Linked DNA regions of Homo sapiens. The protein of the gene in region 2 purifies or fractionates together with the protein of the main gene of each other region. This does not show direct contact. Each region holds a gene or a part of one and is shown on either strand. Other genes may lie near its edges.

Evidence for each region. The genes of interacting proteins can lie anywhere in the genome.
Region 1: the proteins of SUV39H2 (region 2) and CBX1 purify together in Homo sapiens (affinity purification with mass spectrometry; 4 studies listed by BioGRID and IntAct, with this or other methods). This does not show direct contact.
Region 3: the proteins of SUV39H2 (region 2) and CBX5 purify together in Homo sapiens (affinity purification with mass spectrometry; 4 studies listed by BioGRID and IntAct, with this or other methods). This does not show direct contact.

What each region holds. Positions count from the first base shown.
Region 1 is NC_000017.11:48,070,073-48,078,054, reverse strand, and holds part of CBX1 (chromobox protein homolog 1), read left to right. Parts: intron 1-1,013; 5' UTR 1,014-1,050; coding exon 1,051-1,190; intron 1,191-1,876; coding exon 1,877-2,054; intron 2,055-2,954; coding exon 2,955-3,049; intron 3,050-6,475; coding exon 6,476-6,620; 3' UTR 6,621-7,982. UniProt on the Homo sapiens protein: Component of heterochromatin. Recognizes and binds histone H3 tails methylated at 'Lys-9', leading to epigenetic repression. Interaction with lamin B receptor (LBR) can contribute to the association of the heterochromatin with the inner nuclear membrane.
Region 2 is NC_000010.11:14,874,790-14,882,571, forward strand, and holds the start of SUV39H2 (histone-lysine N-methyltransferase SUV39H2), read left to right. Parts: upstream 1-4,076; 5' UTR 4,077-4,099; coding exon 4,100-4,130; exon of another isoform or gene 4,131-4,744; intron 4,745-6,710; coding exon 6,711-6,856; intron 6,857-7,782. UniProt on the Homo sapiens protein: Histone methyltransferase that specifically trimethylates 'Lys-9' of histone H3 using monomethylated H3 'Lys-9' as substrate.
Region 3 is NC_000012.12:54,248,717-54,256,698, reverse strand, and holds part of CBX5 (chromobox protein homolog 5), read left to right. Parts: intron 1-4,471; coding exon 4,472-4,658; intron 4,659-7,982. UniProt on the Homo sapiens protein: Component of heterochromatin that recognizes and binds histone H3 tails methylated at 'Lys-9' (H3K9me), leading to epigenetic repression. In contrast, it is excluded from chromatin when 'Tyr-41' of histone H3 is phosphorylated (H3Y41ph).

The sequences.
Region 1 (7,982 bases), on a different chromosome or scaffold from region 2:
GTTGCCCAGGCTGGAGTACAGTCGTGCGATCTTGGCTCACGACTGGCTAATTTTTGTATTTTTAGTAGGGACAGGGTCTCGCCATGTTGGCCAGGATGGTCTTGAACCCCTGACCTCAGGTGATCTGCCCGCCTCGGCCTCCCAAAGTGCTAGAATTATAGGTGTGAGCCACTGCACCCAGCCTTTCAATTTAATGCAATATTTTAGCTACCGTGCTCTTTTACAACGGTTTTTTTGTGAAGATGGAGTCTTGCTGTGTTGCCTAGGCTGGTCACACACTACTGGGCTTCAGGAATTCTCCCACTTGGGCCTTCCAAAATGCTGGGATTGCAGATGTGAGCCTGCACGCCTGGCCCTAGCTACCATGCTTTATGGTAAAAGGAGTATTGGGAGCCTTTTAAAATTACCAAGAATGGGTATAAAAGTTTTAAATGGATACACAAGAATAAAGAAGTTTGCTGTGAAGGCCAGGCGTGGTGGCTCATGCCTGTAATTCCAACACTTTGGGAGGCCGAGGCAGGTGGATCACCTGAGGTCAGGAGTTCGAGACCAACCTGGCCAACACATAGTGAAATCCCGTCTCTACTAAAAAAAAAAAAACAAAAAAAACAAAAAAAAAAACAACAAAAATTAGCTGGGCTTGGTGGCACACGCCTGTAGTCCCAGCTGCTTGGGAAGCTGAGGCAGGAGAATCGCTTGAACCCAGGAGGCGGAGGTTGCAGTAAGCCGAGATTGCGCCACTTTGCACTCCAGCCTGGGCAACAGAGCAAGACTCCGTCTCTCAAAAAAAAAAAAAAAGTTTGCTGTAAGATTAATTGGGGCTGTTTTATGAGCTTTCTGGCTGGACATATCAGAAAACTATTTTGTATCGAGTGTGAGAAGAAGCCTAACACTTACTATAAGCAGCATACAATATTATCACCTGTCATGTCCCTGGTTTTCTTACCATCCAGATATTATCTAACCAATAAGAGTGCTCCCTAATGCCCTTTTTATTTCATTTATCATTTTAGCAGCGTCACCCTTTACACCAGAAAGCTGGCGGGCACTATGGGGAAAAAACAAAACAAGAAGAAAGTGGAGGAGGTGCTAGAAGAGGAGGAAGAGGAATATGTGGTGGAAAAAGTTCTCGACCGTCGAGTGGTAAAGGGCAAAGTGGAGTACCTCCTAAAGTGGAAGGGATTCTCAGAGTAAGTTTCACTGACACAGGTAAATGTAGCCACCACGTGTTTATCAGGAGTCTAGAGATGTATGAGACCTCCAGTGCTATGATGGATACAGTGTGACTCAGTCCCCACCTTCATGGCTTATTGTTTAATTAGGAATATGGCCTACTGCTTATAATACAAAGCAGAATGACTTCTTTTTAAAAATTATTTCTTTTGAGACGAGGTCTCGCTCTGTCACCCAGGCTGGAGTACAGTGGTGCAGTCATAGCTCGCTGCAGCCTCAACCTCCCAGGCTCAAGGTATCCTCCCACCTCAGCCTTCTAAGTAGCTGGTACCACAGGCATGCACCACCATGTCTCGCTTAGTTGCCCAGGTTTGTCTCTTAACTCCTGGCCTCAAGCAGTCCTCCCACCTGGGCCTCCCAAAGTGTTGGGACTACAAGCATGAGCCACTGTACCCAGCCCATAGTGATTGCTGAGAAACAGTTTTGTGTGTGGCTACAGACCAATTTAAATTGACAAATAAAAGTCATTTGCCTTTGAAGGAAGCCAGTTTCTTAGCTTTCTATTTATACTAAAAAGCTTCCCCATTCCCCAAGAATTTCAGCTTTTCCATAGACATCTGAGGTCTTGTCCTCTTACGATTATCCTTAGTATGAGTATACTTATTTGAGTGAAAGTGTGACTTGCTGTGCCCTCTGGTTTCAGTGAGGACAACACATGGGAGCCAGAAGAGAACCTGGATTGCCCCGACCTCATTGCTGAGTTTCTGCAGTCACAGAAAACAGCACATGAGACAGATAAATCAGAGGGAGGCAAGCGCAAAGCTGATTCTGATTCTGAAGATAAGGGAGAGGAGAGCAAACCAAAGAAGAAGAAAGAAGAGGTAAGAATAGAAGTAAGAATTTTTACTAGCCCACAATTCAAACTACTGTCAAAGTAGTTTTGTTCTGCTTCTTCCCTGATATTAGCAGCTGTCTCTTCTTAGTCCTGAAATCTTAGGTAGGCTAATGCCTACAAAGTGAGAGTGTACTGTCATGAAGCCACATGATCTCTTACTTTTTATCCATGGTACAGGAGCAGTAAATGGAAAACTTGCTGGGGACAGATATAAGGGCAAGTGAATTCATTCTTGTAAAAAATAGTTTTCAATATTTAATCATTAAAGGTGTGAGGTGGCTATTTTGACTTAATCAGTATCTTAAAGTAAGTTGTTTTTTGAGAGTGAAGAGATAGTTGTAAACATTGATTTTGCTTGGGCTGTATGTCCCTTTTCACATAGGGAAAATCTCATGCGCTTCAGACATTGATGAATAATCACTCCAAAGGATTCTAACAGCTCTCTTACTTGAGCCAAGGTATTGGTGAAATATTGGCAAAAGAGTTTGTGATTGGGCCGGGCACGGTGGCTCACACCTGTAATCCCAGCCCCTTGGGAGGCCGAGGCGGGCGGATCACAAGGTCAGGAGATCAAGACCATCCTGACTAACACGGAGAAACTGGGTCTCTACTAAAAATACAAAAAATTAGCTGACGTGGTGGCATGTGCCTGTGGTCCCAGCTACTTGGGAGGCTGAGGCAGGAGAATCACTTGAACCTGGGAGGCAGAGGCTGCAGTGAGCCGAGATCGCACCACTGCACTCCAGCCTGGGCGACAGAGTGAGATTCCGTCTCAAAAAAAAAAAAAAAGAGTTTGTGATTACATTAATCAGAGACACAGGAATGGTTCCAGTCTGGATAATAGTCCCATATAGATAAAATTGTTCTACCCATCTTGTTTTTACAGTCAGAAAAGCCACGAGGCTTTGCTCGAGGTTTGGAGCCGGAGCGGATTATTGGAGCTACAGACTCCAGTGGAGAGCTCATGTTCCTGATGAAATGGTGAGTCGGCCAGTGGCTCTGTGTGGTTGTTTTTTTTCTTCTCCCATTGGTTTCATGCCAGAGGAAAAGAGCTGGACCTTCGAAATTCCAATCACCCAAGTGTGAAATTGTTAAGATGGCATAGTCCTTCGATAGTGACCCTCGGCCTGACTGCCACCCTGGACTCATGAGTTACAGGTAGGAGCCCTTAGGAATCTTGGGTCTTTGCCCATATTTTTAGGAGGTGGGAGACAATCTAGAGTGGAAAGAGTGTGGGAAGGAATTACATTTCACTTCTGTAAATAAAGGGGGAGAAAATGAAATGTGATTGGACCACCCTCTCCTTCTACCACCTCCTTAATAAAGATGAGGCTGGCCCCAGAATCAGAAATTCTGCTAAATTCTCAGGGTTAGGAAAGAATCTGTAGTTCTTCCTTTTGTCCTTAATTGTTGGATCCCTTTCAATTTGTGCAGATTCTACAATTACAGGATCAGCCAGCAGGGGTCAGCAAGGCTCCTTAACTGCTATCAAGCATAGAGCAAGCCTGCTTTTTTCCATTATGAGTATAAATACCAGTGATAGTAATACTCCATGAAACAGCCTAATGAAGATAGTTATCCCAACAATCTCTGTAATTTTCCTACTCTGTCAAAAGAAGGCCATTCTTCCTATTTCTTGCTCATTCTCCCCACAAAGTGGATCTCAATGATTGTATTTAAAATTTGGAAGGAATAATTCTAAGCCATTGCCAATGAAGGCAGCATTCTAGAAACTTTGTCCTTTAAAACACACACACACACACACAGTCTATGGAGCTTTGTCCTTTTGTCAGTCCAGAACTTACTCTGAAACTCGTGTCTGTACTAATTATCCTCTTTTACAGTATGGCTGGAGGGGCCTAACTTTAGCACCACTGAAAGCCAGAGTCACAACTAACTAACCTATTCTCTTCTATGTATTCCCTAGGCAGTTACTGGAGCTGCCCCTCTTTTAGCTGATTTATTGTTAACCTATAAGAGAAAAGTTCATTTTTAAGATGCTGCTTATTGGGTGGGAGAAGTTATACTGTGAGTTACTCAGTTTAGCTAGAATATACTTTTTCTGCATGTGACCAGTGTGAGTTACAGTAGTATCTCCATATTGCTTAAGATTGTACTCCTTTGGTTGACTCACTACTGTCTTTTTTTTTTTTTTTTTTTTTGAGACAGTCTCACTCTTTCGCCCAGGCTGGAGTGCAGTGGCACGATCTCAGCTCACTGCAACCTCCGCCCCTCCGGGTTCAATGATTCTTCTGCCTCAGCCTCTCAAGTAGCTGGGATTACAGGCATGTGCTACCACGCCTGGCTGATTTTTGTATTTTTCATAGAGATGGGGTTTCACCATGTTGGCCAGGCTGGTCTCAAACTCCTGACCTCAGGTGATCCACCCACCTCAGCCTCCCAAGGTGCTAGGATTACAGGCGTGAGCCACTGCACCTGGCCGACTCACTGCTGTCTACAGGTTAAAACTGGATTTGATTATAAGACAAAGTACATTTTAAAAAGTTATTTTACTGGAGAATAGAGATTTTTGTATATTTCTAAAAGTAGTAAATATTTCTGGGGAGTGAAATGACTAAATTTAACTCAGAGGGTGTTGTTCAGCTGTCAGCAAATGGCAGCATGCTTCAGATTCCCATTTCCCTCCCATTCTCTTGGGTCCATTGTTCAAAAACATACATTATCAGCTTACTCTTCTGCTCTATGGGACTATGTGGCTCTGATTTCCTGTTATTAAGGTTCTAGAGATTTGGGGTGGTGCTTTGTCAGAGATGTCATCAGGTGTCTCCTGCTTGCTTTACGCTACTGCTTCTGTCTAGGACATTCCTAATAACCTGAAGATAAGAGTTTGTTTTTTTTTTAAATGAGACAGAGTCTCGCTCTGTCACCCAGGCTGAAGTGCAGTGAGGCGATCTCTGTTCACTACAACCTCCACCTCCCAGGTTCAAGCGATTCTTGTGCCTCAGCCTCCCGAATAGTTGGGATTACAGGCGCACGCCACCATGCCTGGCTAATTTTTGTATTTTTAGTAGCAACACGGTTTTGCCATGTTGACCAGGCTGGTCTTGAACTCCTGGGCCTGCCCACCTTGGCCTCCCAAAGTGCTGGGATTATAGGCGTGAGCTACTGCTCCCTGCCTAAGAGTTTACTCCTAATTCCCTTATAATGTGTATGATTTTCAAATTTTGAAAACTTTTTTTTTTTGAGACAGAGTCTCACTCTGTCGCCCAGGCTGGAGTGCAGTGGCATGATCTCGGCTCACTGCAAGCTCTGCCTCCCAGTTTCACGCCATTCTCCTGCCTCAGCCTCCCAAGTAGCTGGGACTACAGGTGCCTGCCACCACACCAGGCTAATTTTTGTATTTTTAGTAGAGACAGGGTTTCACCGTGTTAGCCAGGATGGTCTCGATCTGACCTCGTGATCCACCTGCCTCGGCTTCCCAAAGTGCTGGGATTACAGGTGTGAGCCACTGCGGCCAGCCACTTGAAAACATTTTAAAATTCAGAAAACTACAGCTCCCTCATTTTCTACTCCCGATGTTGAAACATCATTTCAAAGCACCTGGAAGTTATGCGAGGATAGCATTTGGAAGTGTCAGTGTAATTACGATTATGCAAAAAGTGTCCATCTTCATTTGCTCTGGCCAATGCCAGATGTGGTATTTAATCCTATTACGGGCCGGGCGAGGTGGCTCATGCCTGTAATCCCAACACTTTGGGAGGCTGAGGCAGGTGGATCACCTGATGTCAGGAGTTCAAGATGAGCCTGGCCAACATCTTTAGTAGAGATGGCAAAACCCCATCTCTACTAAAAATACAAAAATTAGCTGGGTGTGGTGGCGCACACCTATAATTCCAGCTATTAGGGGAGGCTGAGGCAGGAAAATCGCTTGAACCCAGGAGGTGGAGGTTGTGGTGATCCGAGATCATGCCACTGCACTCCAGGCTGGGCAACAGAGTGAGATTCTGTCTCAAAAAAAAAAAAAAAAAAATCCTATTACAAAGCCAAGATTTCTCCATGGGTTCTTATCAGCTGGGATATGGCTTTTGGAGGAGTGTGGTAACTTCTCTTCCCTCAGAGAATCTAGGTATCCTCTCTTCCCTCAGAGAATCTAGAGAGTCATGCTTTTTGGGGCCTTGCCCAGATGTTCAGATGTGATTGGTTAAGTCCATTGACCTGGCTTTTGACATACACGAATCCCCAGAGGGAATTTTCAACAGGAGAGTTAACTCTGAGGATGTCACTTGACATACAATTGCCAGTAAATGCTGCTTGGGCCACGTTTTCATTGTTCCCTAGCCTATTTTTCTAAAATTACCATTTTTAAAGCACTGTCCCCTGGGTTATCCAACTTAGGATAGACCACCAGCACCTGGTCTCAAAGTCTCTCTTTGCTTTATTCTGCAGGAAAAACTCTGATGAGGCTGACCTGGTCCCTGCCAAGGAAGCCAATGTCAAGTGCCCACAGGTTGTCATATCCTTCTATGAGGAAAGGCTGACGTGGCATTCCTACCCCTCGGAGGATGATGACAAAAAAGATGACAAGAACTAACGCTCCTGAGTACCAGCCCCTGTCACATCTGACTGTGGGTTTCAAGTGGGAAGGGAAGGAGTTCTACTTGTCTTGACACCATAGAGGTGGCTTGAGAAGATGTCCTTTGAAGAGCCAGTATAGTTTCTGTGCCCTGCAGCAGCCCAAGTGCTTTAAAGCCGTTTCAAGCTGTATAGTTTGCACACCCATCCCAGTGGAGGGGAAAGGGGATAAGTGTTTCAAGGCAACCTTTTCTGCACTTTGCTGCGAAAAGCAAAGGGCCTTCTATGAAGGACAAAACTTGCAGAATTGGGTGTGTGGGAGAGCAAAAAAATACTGTAGATCTTCAAAGAGCATCTCCACAACCCACAGCCTTCTTCCCAATAGTGTTAACTCTGCATTTTTACAGCGTAGCATGTGTGTAGTTTTTGGCTATTACTGGTGTATTATTTGGGGGAGGGAGGGATGGGGAGGGGAGAAAGGGAGATGGGTAGCATCATTTTGATTAACATTTGGGGCCTGATAGGGGAAATGGTGAAGCAATGGAAAAGAACAGACAACTAATGATTTGCTTCTATGTCCAGAATATTTTACCTTTAAAAAAATGTCATTGGCACCATAAATAAGGACTGTGAGAGACTGTTTAAAAGCTGTGAAAGTCTGAAACCTATAAGCCAAGGTGTTCCCTGCCTAAACTTATTGCTGTTCCCACAAAGGACTAAGCCTGTTCATAAGTTACCAAAGTTGCCATTTTGGAGATGGAAATTGACGAGGAGGGAAGGTCTTTTATTGGAGAGTATACAGTACAAGCAGATCATTCTGCCTTAGAGGTGCTAATTCCCGAAATTAGAAGACCCTTTCTTTTCCAGTAACGAAGTTATAAATATCAGCTTGTTCATCCAAGCCACTGGCTGAGGTGTTAGGAAGAGGAAGAGGGTGGTAGAGGAGGTAAGACAGTAGGGAAAGACAAGGGCCCATGCTCTTAGTGGGGAAAACTCTTGGAGCCGTTTACTTTGAGCTTTGAACACTGAAACCATTGTTGGCAGGGTTCAGTCACTGACAGCACAAGTTTCACTGAATTGATCCAAGAGTTTAGTGATTTCAAAAGCCTTGGTCTCAGGAGAAGATTAAACTTTCATATTGGGCAGTGGTTCACTTTAAAACACACACATACACACACAAAACAATTTTTTAAGAAATCCTAATAAGTAACATACCCAAAATGCTCTGTCTTGAGTCATGAGAACCATCAGTTCTTGATATTGTCTAGACTTGCATCTAGAGCTACGTTGTAAAATTCTTTTAGGCATGTGTTAGATTTCTGTGTAAACTTTGTTTAAATGTAAACTTCATACTACATTGTCAGTTTTTGTCTTAATAAAA
Region 2 (7,782 bases):
AAAGGCCCCACCTCCCAATATAATCACTTTGGGGGCGAGGATTTCAACACTGGAATTTTTCAGAGATGAAAACGTTCAGTCCTTAACAGGAGGTCACAAAATATTCATCACAAACTGAAAGCTTTTATATGTATAAGAATTCTTAAAAGTATCCTAGCATAAAAGTTCTATGGGAAAAATCACAATATCTAAAATGATAATGAGTGACCATATAATACTGTTATTTGCTTTAATTCATTATCTCATTTTAAAATTTTGATCTCATCACAATTCCACGAGTAGTTGTACTATGTAGAGAGTAATATGGCCTTGGTTATTTCTGTTTTCCAGATAATAGATTCACAGCAGTTAAATAAAGTATCCAAGGTCTCACAGTGAATAAATGGTGGATTTTGAACTAACATTCAGATGCTTATTTTGTAAACTTAATTTTTCTTGACTGCTTACTATTTTAAGCACATTACATGGATTATTTCATTTAAATTCACATTCTTAATCTAGTGTTCATTCTATGATTCTTTGCCTCTCAGAAGAGAACGTTTATTTCAGTAGAAGAGGAGACACTCCAGAAATCATGTGGTCTTTGTGAAAAAAATACTGGGAAAGGGTCATGATTCTCTACTTTTCCCTTGAGGACCCTGGTGTGTGTCTCTCAGTGGCTTTTTATTTCTCTCTCCATTTATAGCCAGGATTTACCAACACCCTCAAACATTTTAGTCCCAGGAACCCTTTATAGTCTTAAAAAATAACATGTTGAGAACCCATAGAGCTTTTGTTTGTTACATATACATAAAATGTAGTTATATAACTATAGTTACCATATGGAAATTAAAACCAATTTTAAAAATTATTTCTAAGTAATAAAGTTAATTTTTTATGAGAAATAATTTTTCTAAGACAAAAAATTAGTGGCAAGGGTGGTATCTGGGGTTTTATTTTTTGTTTTTTGTCTTGAGACAGGGTCTTGCTCTGTTGCCCAGGCTGCAATGTAGTGGTTTGATCATAGCTCACTACACCCTCAAACTCCTGGGCTCAAGCGATCCTCCCACCTCAGCTTCCTGAGTAGCTGGGACCCCAGGCATGTGCCACCACGCCCAGCTAATTTTTTAGTAGGGTTGCCCTGGCTGGTCTCTAGCAATTCCTCAGCCTCCCAAAGTGCCAAGATTATACGTGCGAGCCACTTTGCCTAGCCAAAAGCAGTATTTTGTATTTTTTCAAATCTCTTTAATGTCTGGCTTAATAGGAGATAGCTATGTTCTGGTACCTGCGTCTTCGTTCAATGTGTTGCAATATTCAAATTGTGTAACCTCTAGAAAATTCCACTATGTACTCATGAGCGAAGGAAGGCAGAGAACATGTTGGTCTGAAAATAGTTTTGCGCTCATGAACCCTGTGAAGAGTCTTCGGGTCCCAATTACCATACTTTGAGAATTGCTGCTCTAGATAGTAAACACGGTGATGAATGTTGAACAGACAGGGCCTCATCTATGCGCTGGAATGGATGGGATTCAAGACACGAAACGAAACACTGGATTTACAAAATAGTGCGATGCATTCATTATGAATCAAGACCAAAGAACAAAAACCCGACAAGATAATTGCAAATTTTGATGAGTGCTTTTTAAGGATGCAAAGTAGGGCTAAAGAATGAGGTAACATGCGAGGCCTCTGTCAATAGGTGGTGTTTAAGCTGAGACCCAAGTGATCTGAAGGTAGCCATGTGAGGAGGGGAAGGAGCCTGTCCTCTTAACCGGAAAGTAATTTCCAGCTGCCTTCAGTGATTTGCTTTATCCGCTGCTCCTGTCACTAGGAAGTCAGCTCCATGAGGACTGGGTCTTTTTTCTTTCTCATCCACTGCTATATTCCCAGCACCTATCAGGTGCCTGGCACATAGGAGATGCACAGTAAAAGATTTCTGGGTAAGTGGGGCCGGGGAAAGGCCAGGAAAATGAGTAAAGGGGAGAGTGGCACCAAGTGAGGTGAGACAGGATTCCCATCACTGGAGGCCCTGCCGGCCATCTGGAGGTTTGAGTTTTATTCTGAATGCTACGAAGTTCAGAAGTGTATTTTTCCGGATATGTTCAATTTGAGATGTTTGTGCAACACCTAAGGGCATATGTCCATTACGCACTGTGGATATTCTAGCCTGGAATTCAGGCAGAGGCCAGGGCCGGAGACGATAAGTGAGGCATCTTGTGTGTCAAGATGCTATTTAAATCCATGGGAATTGGGGCAGTCACATAGGGAGAGGGCGGAAAAGAAATGCAGTCCCAGGACTACAGTCTCTTCTCTGAGGAACCCAGGTTGGACTGAGGAAAAGGAGCCAAAAAGGATTCAAGAGTGGCCAGTGAGTAGCGATGGCCGCTCCTTGGTGGGCTCTGAAAACATACAGGAGAGGTAATGAATACAGGGGCCGGTTAGGACGGGAGGCTGTATCCAAGTCTGAAGGCATAATCCTAGATAGACTAAGCCTTAAAGGGCCTGGATGCTCTTCCAGGTGACAGGGTTGGACAGGGCCTTTTATTCCTTATCTCAAGGTAATGAGATATGGAATACAAAATTTACTAAGGACTCAAATCTTAGAAACATGTCTGAGAAATGCAGTTGCATTGAAACACACACGGACTGCAGAACAGTATTTGTATTATGATGCCGTTTGTAGCTAAATAAAGTCTGGGAGCATGAGTGTGTGTGAGGAAGTGGTGTTTCCCATCGTAGAAAATGATTAAATATTTAAAAACGAGAAGTTAAAAAGAAAATCACTCCGAAAAGGCTATTTCGTTATTTTCCTATACATTTTTTTCTTCCATAGTTAAAACTATATTTCAGGGGGATTTGTTTTGGTTTTGCTGAATACTAAAAGCTTCATGAACACCTTTTTAAGACGGCTAGACAGTATTTCATAATGGAATCAAATAATTAACTATTCCTTTAATGGTCTGCGTTCATTTCCAGTATTTCAAATTTATACATACTGCTTTGAAACGTTTATGTAATTTTTTACATGAATTTTTTAAGGAGATATCAAATGGCCTTCTGCCAGTTTTCGTTATTTGCTCTAAGATTTCTGCTTTAGGTTGTTTAGAACAATCATGGATGCAGCGTCAAGAATGGGTGGGGGAGGGGGGTGGAGACCAGGTGGGAGGCCCCTGGAGTCGTCCTGCAGCTTCCTTACTAACGTGTCCTTCTCCTCCCGGCCCCCACCCGCCACCAGGCCGAGCTCAGGAGCTTGGCAACAACATGGGAGGGGAGCTCGGGTCCCCTTACAGACCTACCCAATCCCAATTTACATTAAAGTTGAGCCCAGGAGGTCTAGTCTGCAGTGAGCCGTAATCGCGCCACTGCACTCCAGCCTGGGTGACAGAGTGAGACCTCATCTCTTAAAAAATTCCAAGTCCAGCTCCCCCACCCCCGACGATTCGTAAGCCCCTTTAAGTGAGAAGCACTGATGTGGACCGGTGGTTTCCGCTGTGCCGCACATTAGGATCAGCTGGGAGCTGGATAGCACAGGCCACACCCCACACCAACCAGTCGGAATCCCGGCGACTGCCCCAAGCCAGCGGAACCTCTCCAGCCATGCCCACGTGCAGCCGCTTCCGAAGCCCGGAGCTCTAGAGGGAGCGGTGTCGGGGGGAGACTAACCATGGCCCACGGGGCTGCGGTAGCTGCGGAACCGTACCCGACAGGCAGCGTCCCCGGCTCCCTAGGTCCCCGCTGCCCGTGTCGGATCTCGCAGTGTGCGAGTGCTGCCGAAGTAAGACGTCTCCAAAGCGCAAAGTCCTGGCCGACGTCTTCCCGAGTGAAGGCGCCAAACGGGCCTGGCGAAGGGAAGGGGGCGCCGGACACTGCCGAGGATCCGGGAGCACGCGCGCTCGCCCCGCCCCGCTCCTCGCGCTTGGGGCCGGGCCTAGCTTTGGGGCGCAGGCGCGCTGGCCGCCGCGGCGGGGGGTCGGCCGCCAGTGACGTCAGGACGCCGTGCGGGTTCCGTCCCCCAACAAGCCCCGGCCCCCAAGTCCCGCGCGGGCCGGCCAGGGGCGGGGCGTCGGGCCAGCTGAGCTATCCCGTCAGACCGCGCCAGTTTGAATGAAAGCTCTACAAGATGGCGGCGGTCGGGGCCGAGGCGCGAGGAGGTGAGGCTGGAGCGCGGCCCCCTCGCCTTCCCTGTTCCCAGGCAAGCTCCCAAGGCCCGGGCGGCGGGGCCGTCCCGCGGGCCAGCCAGATGGCGACGTGGCGGTTCCCCGCCCGCCGCGACCCCAACTCCGGGACGCACGCTGCGGACGCCTATCCTCCCCCAGGCCGCTGACCCGCCTCCCTGCCCGGCCGGCTCCCGCCGCGGAGGTGGGCACTGTCCGAGCCTGGGGCACTTCGGAAGTGGAGCGTGGCCTCTCCGCCCGCTCGGCCCGGCCCCCTCCGCGTCTCCCGTGGCGGCCTCGGGCTTCGAGGCCGCTCCCCGGCAGTCCCCGGTTGGAGGTCCGGGGGGCACGGCTGCGACTGGCTCCTTTGTGGTGGTTCGAGCGCGGCGTGCGGCATGCGCCCGGGCCTTTGAAGTGGGAGGCGGGAAGCGACGCCCGCCGGCGTGAACATGACCTTAATATCAGAGGGGGAGAGTAAATCGGGGCGCCTGTGTGCTAAGAAAGGGGATAAGCGAGGAATCCCCCCCAAGGCGGACACGCTAGGAGGTTGAGTGCCTCGTTGGAGAATCGCCCAGAAAGTGGGTATTTGAGGTTGCAGCCTCTGGCTTACGGTAACTCTTTCACCCACCGGGAGCTTGGTGTTATTTCTGTGGACGCTGGGGAATTGGGCACCGGGGAACTGGGCACCGAGCGCGCGTGGGTGTGGGCGTCGGGGGGTGTTGGTGTCGCGCACGCTTTGAGAGCCTGGAACTTTTCCGTGCGTTCCGGAATGTAAAGGTGTTTTCAAGCTCGTCTCCTCTCCGCTGGGATTATGACCTCATTATCCCTGAATTTTTCTCCTTGGAGAATGTCAGGGGTTACTGTGAACCAGCGGAAGGTGTTTGTGGTGGTCATGAACTATTTAATTTTGTCAGTGAAATCTTTTTCTGCATTACTGGAGACTGTCGAGAGATTGTCTTTCTTTTTTTAACCACGTGTTTGCAGTTTTTCATGTTCACTTTTTTTTTTTTTTTAATTTTCAAAGAGCATTTCCTTTGCGGGTTGTGTTTTGAATCCTCAACTAGATAAAAATGTTTAGGAAAAGCACACAAACACACCTTGAGTAGATAAGAGGAACCTCCTTTATACGTGATTCCCTTAATGAGGTCAGCTTAACACAAAACGTTCTCTAGTTTTTGTAGATGGAAGGGACTTAGGGGGTCATTTCTTTCCCATCACTGTCCTACCCCCAAACGACCACTACAAAGCCAATCAGCCTCTTCCCCCACGTTTTCTGGAGGAAAATACCTTTGTCTTTACTGCTTTAGGATGGAATCGTTTGCAGCCAGTGAGATGGTAGAAATTATGCTTAAGGGTTTCTGACAATGAAGTTTCTGTGTGAGGTGGGGAGGATGAGGAAAGGGGCCGGAAAAGTTATTGCCACTAACAAGTGTTCTCCCTTCCCTGAAATTACCTCAAAACGCAAAAGGTGATCGCAACTACCTTGGAGAGCTACCAAGTAAAGCTTGAGTTTACTGATAGATTTTGTTTGGTAACACCAGTTTTCTCCATTTTTTTCCAGTGAATCTGACAGCCAAAAAGATTGAGACCTCACTAAAGTCACATAGCTCGGTGACCGAGCGATGGGTAGTGCAGAGGACTTTTGATTTTGTCAAGTGCTTACCATGACACTAGCCCTAACAACAAGTTTGTTCCATTTTCCTAAACGTGTTAATTTACACTTTAAATTCAGTGTGGTAACATGCTGCTTACAGAAATTTGAGGGTGAAATCTTCTGGAACGCAATTAGTTTCTGGTTTCTGGAGGGTTGATGATGAGTATGTCTAATTTTCTTTGAGTTTAGTACATGGCTTATGTAAATTGAACACCGTTTTAAAAGTTTGGCTTTAAAAACAGTACAGTCCATAAGTATTACAAAATATCGATATACTCCATTTTTTTAATAACTGGAGTTTATTCACCTTGGTGATAATATATTGCAGTATGGGTAGAATAATAAGTGGAATTAAAGCTTCATGCAACATATCAAAGAGAAAACTAACATATAATGAGTTTGTAACCGTAGAAATATATTTTAATTAGATTTCAGTTCGTTTTGTCCAGTTAAAAAAAATGAAAGTTACGTGTTAACAAATTATAAGATTGTTTTAAAGTATATTTTAGATATGTTTTTAAGAATAAGTGTCCTAGAGATTTACATTTTATTAAAATAGTGATTGTAGTCTATGTAGAATACAATGAAAGTGAAAAACATTATCTCTGTTGACCTGCATCTGTATATAATCTTAAAAAAGCTTACAGACATGAAACATTTTCAAGTGACTTAATGGAAATTAACTGATGTCAGTTAAACGTAGTGGAATAGAAATCCATGAGAAAATCCAAGAACACCAATTTAACAAAATAGTTCCTTAATGTTTAACTTTTTCTTGAAGACATGTAACTGGTTTCTTGTCATAGGAATTTTTAGTCTAAAATTGCCAGTTGAAAGATGGGGAATAGAGGTTTTAAGTTTCTCTTTTTTGTTTTAATTGAATAGCTATTTCATTAGTAAAGAATTCTATTTTCTTATTGTAGCTTGGTGTGTGCCTTGCCTAGTTTCACTTGATACTCTTCAGGAATTATGTAGAAAAGAAAAGCTCACATGTAAATCGATTGGAATCACCAAAAGGAATCTAAACAATTATGAGGTGGAATACTTGTGTGACTACAAGGTAGTAAAGGTAAGGCAAATATCTAGCCCCTTACAAGAGACCTAATCAGACTTCAGTATTTCGTATTTCTGTAACATAAAAAGAACATTAAAAGAAAAGCTCTTCTTAATGTTTAAAATTCTAAGGCATGATAAATTTATATGTCCTATCATCTGTGTTGCCAAATAGCATTGAGAGGATTTTGAAGCATAAAGTGTTCTTGCATTAGAATATTTTCAGGTGCTCATATCCCTCTACATCCAACTCTTGATTATCTCCGTGTGGGTTACCAGAGCAAATGTTTGATCTCCAATTGTCTTTCGTTTTGTTCGTGGATCGTATTTCCCCACTATCACCTGAAATGAACCTACCGTTTCAAACCAATTTTAGTGTTACTGACTCTCAAGAACATCACCATTTGCATTTCCTGCCATCTTGTCACACTCCAGATTTAGTCAGGTTCTAGGTTATAATAGAATGGCCTGGATTGCAAAGTCATTTCCAGCTTTTGTTTAGTACCTTAGGACTTAAGCAAACTCGTTTCACTTCTCTAAGCCTTCCTTTATTGCTCTTAAAAAACGGCAGAGTTGTTCTCAAAAGATTTTTTGATCTAAACTGTATATTTTTGAGTAATTCATCTGTCTATAGCCTACCTCACTTTCCAAGAACTGTTTTGGTCATTAATCTACCAAATCTATCAGATAAGTGAATCGGGAATCTTGTTTAAGTCTTTATTTTCCTCCTTCATCTTCTATATTGAATCAGTCACTAAATCCCATTCTTTCAAGTTCTTTAGTATCACTGCCTTCCCTGCTCAGTGGGATCTTATGCCCATGCATCTCACCTGCACTCTCAGCATCCTTCGGCCCCTGAAACAGCCCCAGTCATCTGCCATCTCAGTTTACAAGCTATGGACTGACCAGTCCAGCTGAGAATATTATACAATCATGCATATC
Region 3 (7,982 bases), on a different chromosome or scaffold from region 2:
AAAGTTATTAATGAAATTTGTGTGTGTGTGTGTGCTAAGACTTGAAAATCTGGGATGTATTTTATACTTTATAGTGCATCTCCATTCAAACTAGCTGCATTTCAAATAGGCACATGTGGCTAGTGGTTACCATATTGGATGGCACAGCTCCTGCAGTCTAGGACCTAAATACACTAAAAGATACAGTGGTTTACCAATACTTTTGGATAAAGGCTATGTGTCAAGAACCTTTGAAACATACTGGAGGTTATTTCATTACATGACTCAAGGTTTCTCATCTGGAGAATTATTGGCGTTGTAGGTGGGATCATTCATGCATTGCAGGATGCTTAGCATCTCTAGCACCCAGAGTGCAAGTATGGGTAGCACAACAATCAGAAGATGCCCTCTGTTTGTAGAGAGGAGTGGTATCACAGCTTCCACTAGAGATGAGAACTGTTAAAGTTTGAGAGACCTCTAGAGCACTAACAGATAGGAACTAAAGTAACACCAGAAGATTTTGAAGATGTTTATTGGGCCCATTTCCACTGGAAATATTTGGGTGTTTGAAAGATACTTGAAACTCTTTCTCTGTCATTGAGCTACTGGTACCTTACCATAGATGAAAGGGGAAAAGGTAAGGTTTGGGGTAGACAAAGTAAACATTGGTCCTTTTTCAGAAATGCCCTGGATTTCATAAAAGACTGGAACAAATCAGCATTGTCTATAACTAAATGCCTACTTTGTGCTAGACAGTGATCAAATTCTACCTCTTGTGCTCTCTTCGATTCTCACAAAAGCATTTAGAGTCCAGGCATGGTGGTATGTACCCGTGGTCCCAGCTACTAGGGAGGTTGAAGTGGGAGGATTGCTTGAGTCCAGGAGTTTTGGGCTGTAGTGCACTAAACCGATCAGGTGTCTGCATTAAGTTTGGCATCAATATAGTGACCTCCCAGGAGTGAGGGACCACCAGGTTGCCTAAGTAGGAGTGAACCAGAGCAGGTCAGAACTCCCATTTTGAGCATTAGTAGGATCGTACCTGTGAATAGCCACTGCACTCCTGTCTGGTTAACATAGCAAGACCCTTGCCTCTTTCAAAACTTTAATTCTTTTTTTAATTTAAATTTTTACATATTTTTATCTTTTTTTTTTTTTTTTTTTGAGACAGAGTCTCTCACTATCGCCCACGCTGGAGCTCAGTGGCGCGATCTCAGCTCACTGCAACCTCCGCCTCCCGGGTTCAAGCGATTCTCCTGCCTCAGCCTCCCGAGTAGCTGGGATTACAGGTGCCTGCCACCACGCCCAGCTAACTTTTTGTATTTTTAGTAGAGACAGCATTTCACCATGTTGGCCAGGCTGGTCTCGAACTCCTGACCTTGTGATTCGCCCACCTCAGCCTCCCAAAGTGTTGGGATTACAGGCGTGAGCCACCACGCCCTGCTTTTTTATCTTCAAAATAGAGACAGGGTCTCACTGTGTTACCCAGGCTGGTCTCGCTCTCTTGGGTTCAAGCGATCTGCCTGCCTTGGCCTCTTGAAGTGCTGGGATTATAGGTGTGAATCACTATTCCTGGCCAACCCAGGCTCTTTTTAAATCATACTATGTTGTCTTTTGGGTGGAAACTGAAGTAGAAGCAGCAGTACCAAAGTGTTAGGAAAAGGGATAATCGCATTATAGGACTGGCTTTTCTAGCTATCAACAGATTCTTCCCAACCCCCAAGTGTATTCGGCTTGTGTAATAGTCTTGGTACACCTTTTGATATTGGTATGTTAATTTCCTCTGGGATGGTAAACTATATGGTCTGTGGGTTTTGGGGAAAGTTACTGTGTGAGGAATTTTTTTTCTTGACTTCTTTTCTTTTTTTGAGACAAGAGTTTTGCTCTTATTGCCCAGGCTGGTGTGCAATGGCGTGATCTTGGCTCACTGCAACCTCCTTCTCCCGGGTTCAAACGATTCTCCTGCCTCAGCCTCCTGAGTAGATGGGATTACAGGCGCCCGCCACCACGCCCTTCTAAATTTTGTATTTTTATTAGAGATGGGGTTTCACTGTGTTGGCCAGGATGGTCTCGACCTCCTGACCTCAGGTGATCCACCTGCTTCTGCTTCCCAAAGTGCTGGGATTAGAGACTTGAGCCACCGTGCCCGGCCGAGGAATTTTTTTTCTGCTGAGAGAAGGGATATAAAGGAGAAACTTTCCCATATTAGCTCAAATGATTTAGAAATAAATTTTGTCTCAATATTATGTTCCTTTTGTAGAAAGTTGTTTAGGTCAAGAGTAAATAGCTCAGATTTTTCCGTCTTTCTGCTTTCTACTTGAGTCAGGTTATTATGGCATGTGTTCAAATCATTCCCATCTAAATAAACCTTTTTTTTTTTTTTTTTTTTTTGAGATGGAGTTTCACTCTTGTTGCCCAGGCTGGAGTGCAATAGCTCGAACTCAGCTCACCACAACCTCCTGCCTCCCGGGTTCAAGTGATCCTCCCTCCTCAGCCTCCTGAGTAGCTAGGATTACAGGCAGGTGCCACCATGCCCGACTGCTTCAGCCTCCCAAAGTACTGGGATTACACGCATGAGCCACCGTGCCTGGCTGAATTTTGGGTTTTTAAATAGCTTTATCGAGGTATTATTTAAACACCATAACATTCACCCATTGAAATTGTACAATTCAGGCTAGATGCGGTGGCTCACATCCATAATTCCAGCACTTTGAGTGGCCGAAGCAGGCGGATCACTTGAGGTCAGGAGTTCGAGACCAGCCTGGCCAACATGGTGAAACCCCGTCTCTACTAAAAATACAAAAATTGGTGGCGCATGCCTGTAATCCTAGTTACCGGGGAGGCTGAGGCCGAAGAATGGCTTGAACCCAGGAGACAGGTTGCAGCGAGCCGATATCACACCACTGCACTCCAGCCTGCAAGACAGAGTGAGACTCCATCTCAAAAAAAAAAAAAATTGTACAATTCAGTGATTTTTTTTTTTTTTTTTTTTTTTGAGATGGTATCTCACTCTGTTACCCAGGTGGGAGTGCAGTGGTGCAATCACGGTTCACTGCAGCCTCAACCTTCTGGGCTCAAGGGATCCTCTCATTTCAGCCTCCCAAGTAGCTAGGACTACAGGTGCAAGCCACCATGCCTGAGTAATTTTTAAATCTTCTGTGGAGACAGGAGTCTTGCTATGTTGCTTAGGCTGGTCTTTGAACTGTTGGGCTCAAGTGATCTGCTCACCTTAGCCTCCCAAAGTGCTGAGATTACAGGCGTGAGTCACTGCGCCCAGCCCAATTAAATTATTATTATTGTTTTTTTTTGAGATAGAGTCTCAGTCTGTTGCCCAGACTGGAATGCAGTGGTGCAGTCTTGGCTCACTACAACCGCAGCCTCCCAGATTCAAGCAGTTCTCATGCCCTAGCCTCCTGCGTAGCTGGGACTGCAGGTGTGCACCACCAAGCCCAGCTAATTTTTGTATTTTTAGTGGAGACAGGGTTTTGCAATATTGACCAGGCTGGTCTCGAACTCCTGAGTGCCTCTCAAAGTGCTGGGATTACAGGCGTTAGCCACTGTGCCTGGCTCCAATTAAATGATTTGGAATAAATTTATAGAGCTATGCAACCACCACTATGATCCAGTTTCAGAACATTTTTGTGTCCCCCAAAATTCTCTTGATTCCCATTTGTAGTTAATTACAACTCCCTCCCTCAGCCCCAGGCATTCACTGATCTGCTTTTTTTTTTTTTTTTTTTTTTGAGACAGAGTCTGGCTTTTTCGCCCAGGCAGGAGTGGCACAATCTCAGCTCACTGCAACCTCCCCTTCCCGGGCTCAAGCAATTCTCCTGCCTCAGCCTCCCGAGTAGCTGGGACTACAGATGTGTACCACCACACCAAGCTAATTTTTGTAATTTTAGTAGAGACACGGTTTCACTGTGTTGGCCAGGCTGGTCTCAAACTCCTGACCTCAAGTGATCTGCCTGCCTCGGCCTCCCAGAGTGCTGGGATTACAGGTGTGAGCCACCGTGCCCGGCTGATCTGCTTTCTGTCTCTATAAATTTGTCTTTCCCAGACATTTCATGTAAATGGAATTAGTATGTAGTATCTTGTGTCTTATTTCTTTCACTTAGTATAATGTTTTTGGGGTTCTTCCAAGTTGTAGCATGTTTTAATATTTTGCTTATTGTTGTTGGATAATATTCCTTTGTATGGATATACCACATTTTGTTTTTCCATGTCACCATCCATTGATGAACATTTGAATTTGTTTTCTGTTTTTGGCTATTAAAATGCTGCTGTAAACAATTGTAAATAAGTCTTTGTGTGGGCTTTTTTTTTTTTTTCATTTTTCCTGGGTAGAAATCTAGGATCAAATTTGTTATCTTCTTTAAAGCATAGGGTTTCTCTGTCCTTTTTGTCCGAATGTCCTCTTTGAAATAAGGCATTGGATTTTTTTCCTCATTCTTTACCCCCCCCTTTTTTTTTTAATTTTCCCATTTTTCTTACCCAGGGAGCACAATACTTGGGAACCTGAGAAAAACTTGGATTGCCCTGAGCTAATTTCTGAATTTATGAAAAAGTATAAGAAGATGAAGGAGGGTGAAAATAATAAACCCAGGGAGAAGTCAGAAAGTAACAAGAGGAAATCCAATTTCTCAAACAGTGCCGATGACATCAAATCTAAAAAAAAGAGAGAGGTAAGCTTCCTTTCCCTTTTCCCCAAAAACTATTCTTTTGCCACCAAAATAATAATAATAAATAAAAGTATCATATTTTGGTTATTTCTATTGTAAGGATGGACCTATAAGGTAAATTGTTGAACAAAAGAGCTTCCAGGGAGGTATGTTGATTACAGCTCCCTCTCCTGGCTAAGTGAGAAATGTAATTTGTGGCCACTGGATTGTATTAAGGGGGCAAAATTAAATCTTTGTAAAATGTTAAACCACTCCTCTGCCTTCTCCATAAGTAGAAGACTTAGTTATCTTAGAGAAGGAGGATCATTGGTGAATTTTTTAAGAATAGAAAGGGGCTTTGAAATGTTTTGTTTTGTTTTGAGACAGAGTCTTGCTCTGTTGCCCAGGCTGGAGTGCAGTGGCTGGATCTCAGCTCACTGCAATCTCCAACTCCCGGCTTTAAGCGATTCTCATGCCTCAGTAGTAGCTGGGATTATAGGCACATGCCACCACACCTGGCTGATTTTTTTTTTTTTTTTTTTTTTTTTGAGACAGAGTCTTGCTGTCACCCAGGCTGGAGTGCAGTGGCACTATCTTGGCTCACTGCAAGCTCTGCCTCCCGGGTTCACGCCATTCTCCTCCCTCAGCCTCCCGAGTAGCTGGGACTACAGGCGCCTGCCACCACGCCCAGCTAATTTTTTTGTATTTTTAGTAGAGACGGGGTTTTACCATGTTAGCCAGGATGGTCTTGATAATTTTTGTATTTTTAATAGAGACGGGGTTTCGCCATGTTGGTCAGGCTGGTCTTGAACTCCTGACCTCGTGATCCGCCTGCCTTGGCCTCCCAAAGTGTTGAGATTATAGACGTGAGCCACCATGCCCAGCCGGGGCTTTGAAATGTTTACCATTTCACTTCCTTTTTTCTTTTTTTTTGGAGACAGAATATCGCTCTGTCACCCAGGCTTGAGTGCAATAGTGCGATCTTGGCTCACTGGAACTTCCACCTCCTGTGTTCAAGCAGTTCTCCTGCCTCAGCCTCCCAAGTAGCTGGGATTACAGGCACACGCCACCATGCCCAGCTAATTTTTTGTATCTTTAGTAGAGACGGGGTTTCACCATGTTGGCCGGGCTGGTCTCAAACCCCTTACCTTGTGATCCATCCACCTTGGCCTCCCAAAGTGTTGGGATTACAGGCGTGAGCCACCGCGCCCGGCCCTTTCTTTTTTTTTTTTTTTTTTTTTTTTTTTTTTTTTGAGACGGAGTCTCGCTCTGTCGCACAGGCCGGACTGCGGACTGCAGTGGCGCAATCTCGGCTCACTGCAAGCTCTGCCTCCCGGGTTCACGCCATTCTCCTGCCTCAGCCTCCCGAGTAGCTGGGACTACAGGCGCCCGCCACCGCGCCCGGCTAATTTTTTGTATTTTTAGTAGAGACGGGGTTTCACCTTGTTAGCCAGGATGGTCTCGATCTCCTGACCTCATGATCCACCCGCCTCGGCCTCCCAAAGTGCTGGGATTACAGGCGTGAGCCACCGCGCCCGGCCCCGGCCCTTTCTTTTGTTCCAGTGATAGCATTTGTTTTCAATCCTTGATAATCTTTTTTTTGCAGTGAAAATCATATAATATACAATTAAATATTTTATTTATTTATTTATTTTGAGACAGAGTCTTGTTCTGTCACTCAGGCTGGAGTGCATGGGCGTGATCTCGGCTTACTGCACCCTCACCTCCTGGGTTCAAGTGATTCTCCTGTTTCAGCCTTCTGAGTAGTTGGGATTACAGGCATGTGCCACCATAGCCAGATAATTTTTGTATTTTTATTTTTATTTTTTATTTATTTTTTTGAGACGGAGTTTCACTCTTGTTGCCCAGGCTGGAGTTCAATGGCATGATCTTGGCTCACTGCACCCTCCATCTCCTGGGTTCAAGTGATTCTTCTGCCTCAGCCTTCCAGAGTAGTTGGGATTACAGACATGCACCACCATGCCCAGCTAATTTTGTATTTTTAGTAGAGAGGGTGTTTCTCCATGTTGGTCAGGGTGGTCTTGAACTCCCTAACTCAGGTGATCCACCTGCCTTGGCCTCCCAAAGTGTTGGGATTACAGGTGTGAGCCACCATGCCTGGCTCAATTAACAATTTTAAAATGTACAGTTCAGTGGCATTTATATTCTCTTGATCTATTATTTCTACATACTTGGCGTACAAAATTAATTTTTGTCTTTTGAATCTTCTTCAGTTTGGGAAGTGTATTTATGAAATTTTGGTTTGATTTAGTTGCTTTAATCCTTCTGATCTTTAGCTCTCAAGTAAGTAGCATAAGCACTGTTATTGCCTCTCTCTCTTTTCATCTGTGTGTGGGCGCATAAATACACACACTCTACCACCTCCTCCCGCCCCCAGCTTCCATTCCTTTTATTTATTTCAAGGTTATGAAGCCTTTTGTGGTGAAGGATGTATCATACACTTTACATTTCATAAAAGCGTAAGTCTACTTCGGAATCTTCCAGCCTTCCAGAGTAGCTGCCACAATCATCCCTATGTATCTTCATTCTAATTAGATTTATACCTTTCTAGAGCATTAGTTCTCAATGCTACACATTATAATCACCTGGGGGGTACGTTAAAAAAAAAAAAAAATCTCCAGTGCCTAAGATGCACCCCAGACCAGTAAAATTAGAATTTTTTTTTTTTCTTTTTTTTTTGAGACATAGTCTCACTCTGTTGCCCAGGCTGGAGTGCAGTGGCACAATCTCACTGCAACCTCTGCCTCCTGGGTTCAAGCGATTCTCCTGCTTCACCCTCCCTAGTAGCTGGGACTACAGGCACATGCCACCATGCCTGGCTAATTTTTTGTATTTTTAGTAGAGATGGGGTTTCACCGTGTTAGCCAGAATGGTCTCAATCTCCTGACCTCGTTATCCGCCCATCTTGGCCTCTCAAAGTGCTGTGATTACAGGCATGAGCCACCACACCTGGCCTCTGTCATTTTTAAAAAGGAGCAGTCTGAATAATCTGGCTTGGAGCCACTGGCCAGTGCACAGAGTTTTGTTCCTAGGCCAGGTTCTGAAGCTGCCGACCTTGAAAACAACCCCCACATGTCCCTTACATCATAATGTTCATCTGGGACCCCTGATAGCATTCTTAGCAGTACTGGCTGCTGTCAGGTAGACAGCTGGAAAGATAGGTGATTGTATGTTTTAAAGGTATAGGAGGGGATTGTGTTTATTTCTTAAGACCACTGGAGAAGAAATTTGTTAGTTTGCATTATGCCTGATTTAAGATTACTGCCTGTATGATGATTTTAGCATTTTCTTCGCCCTGGCTCCTTTTCAGCAGCTTGAACGTTTTTC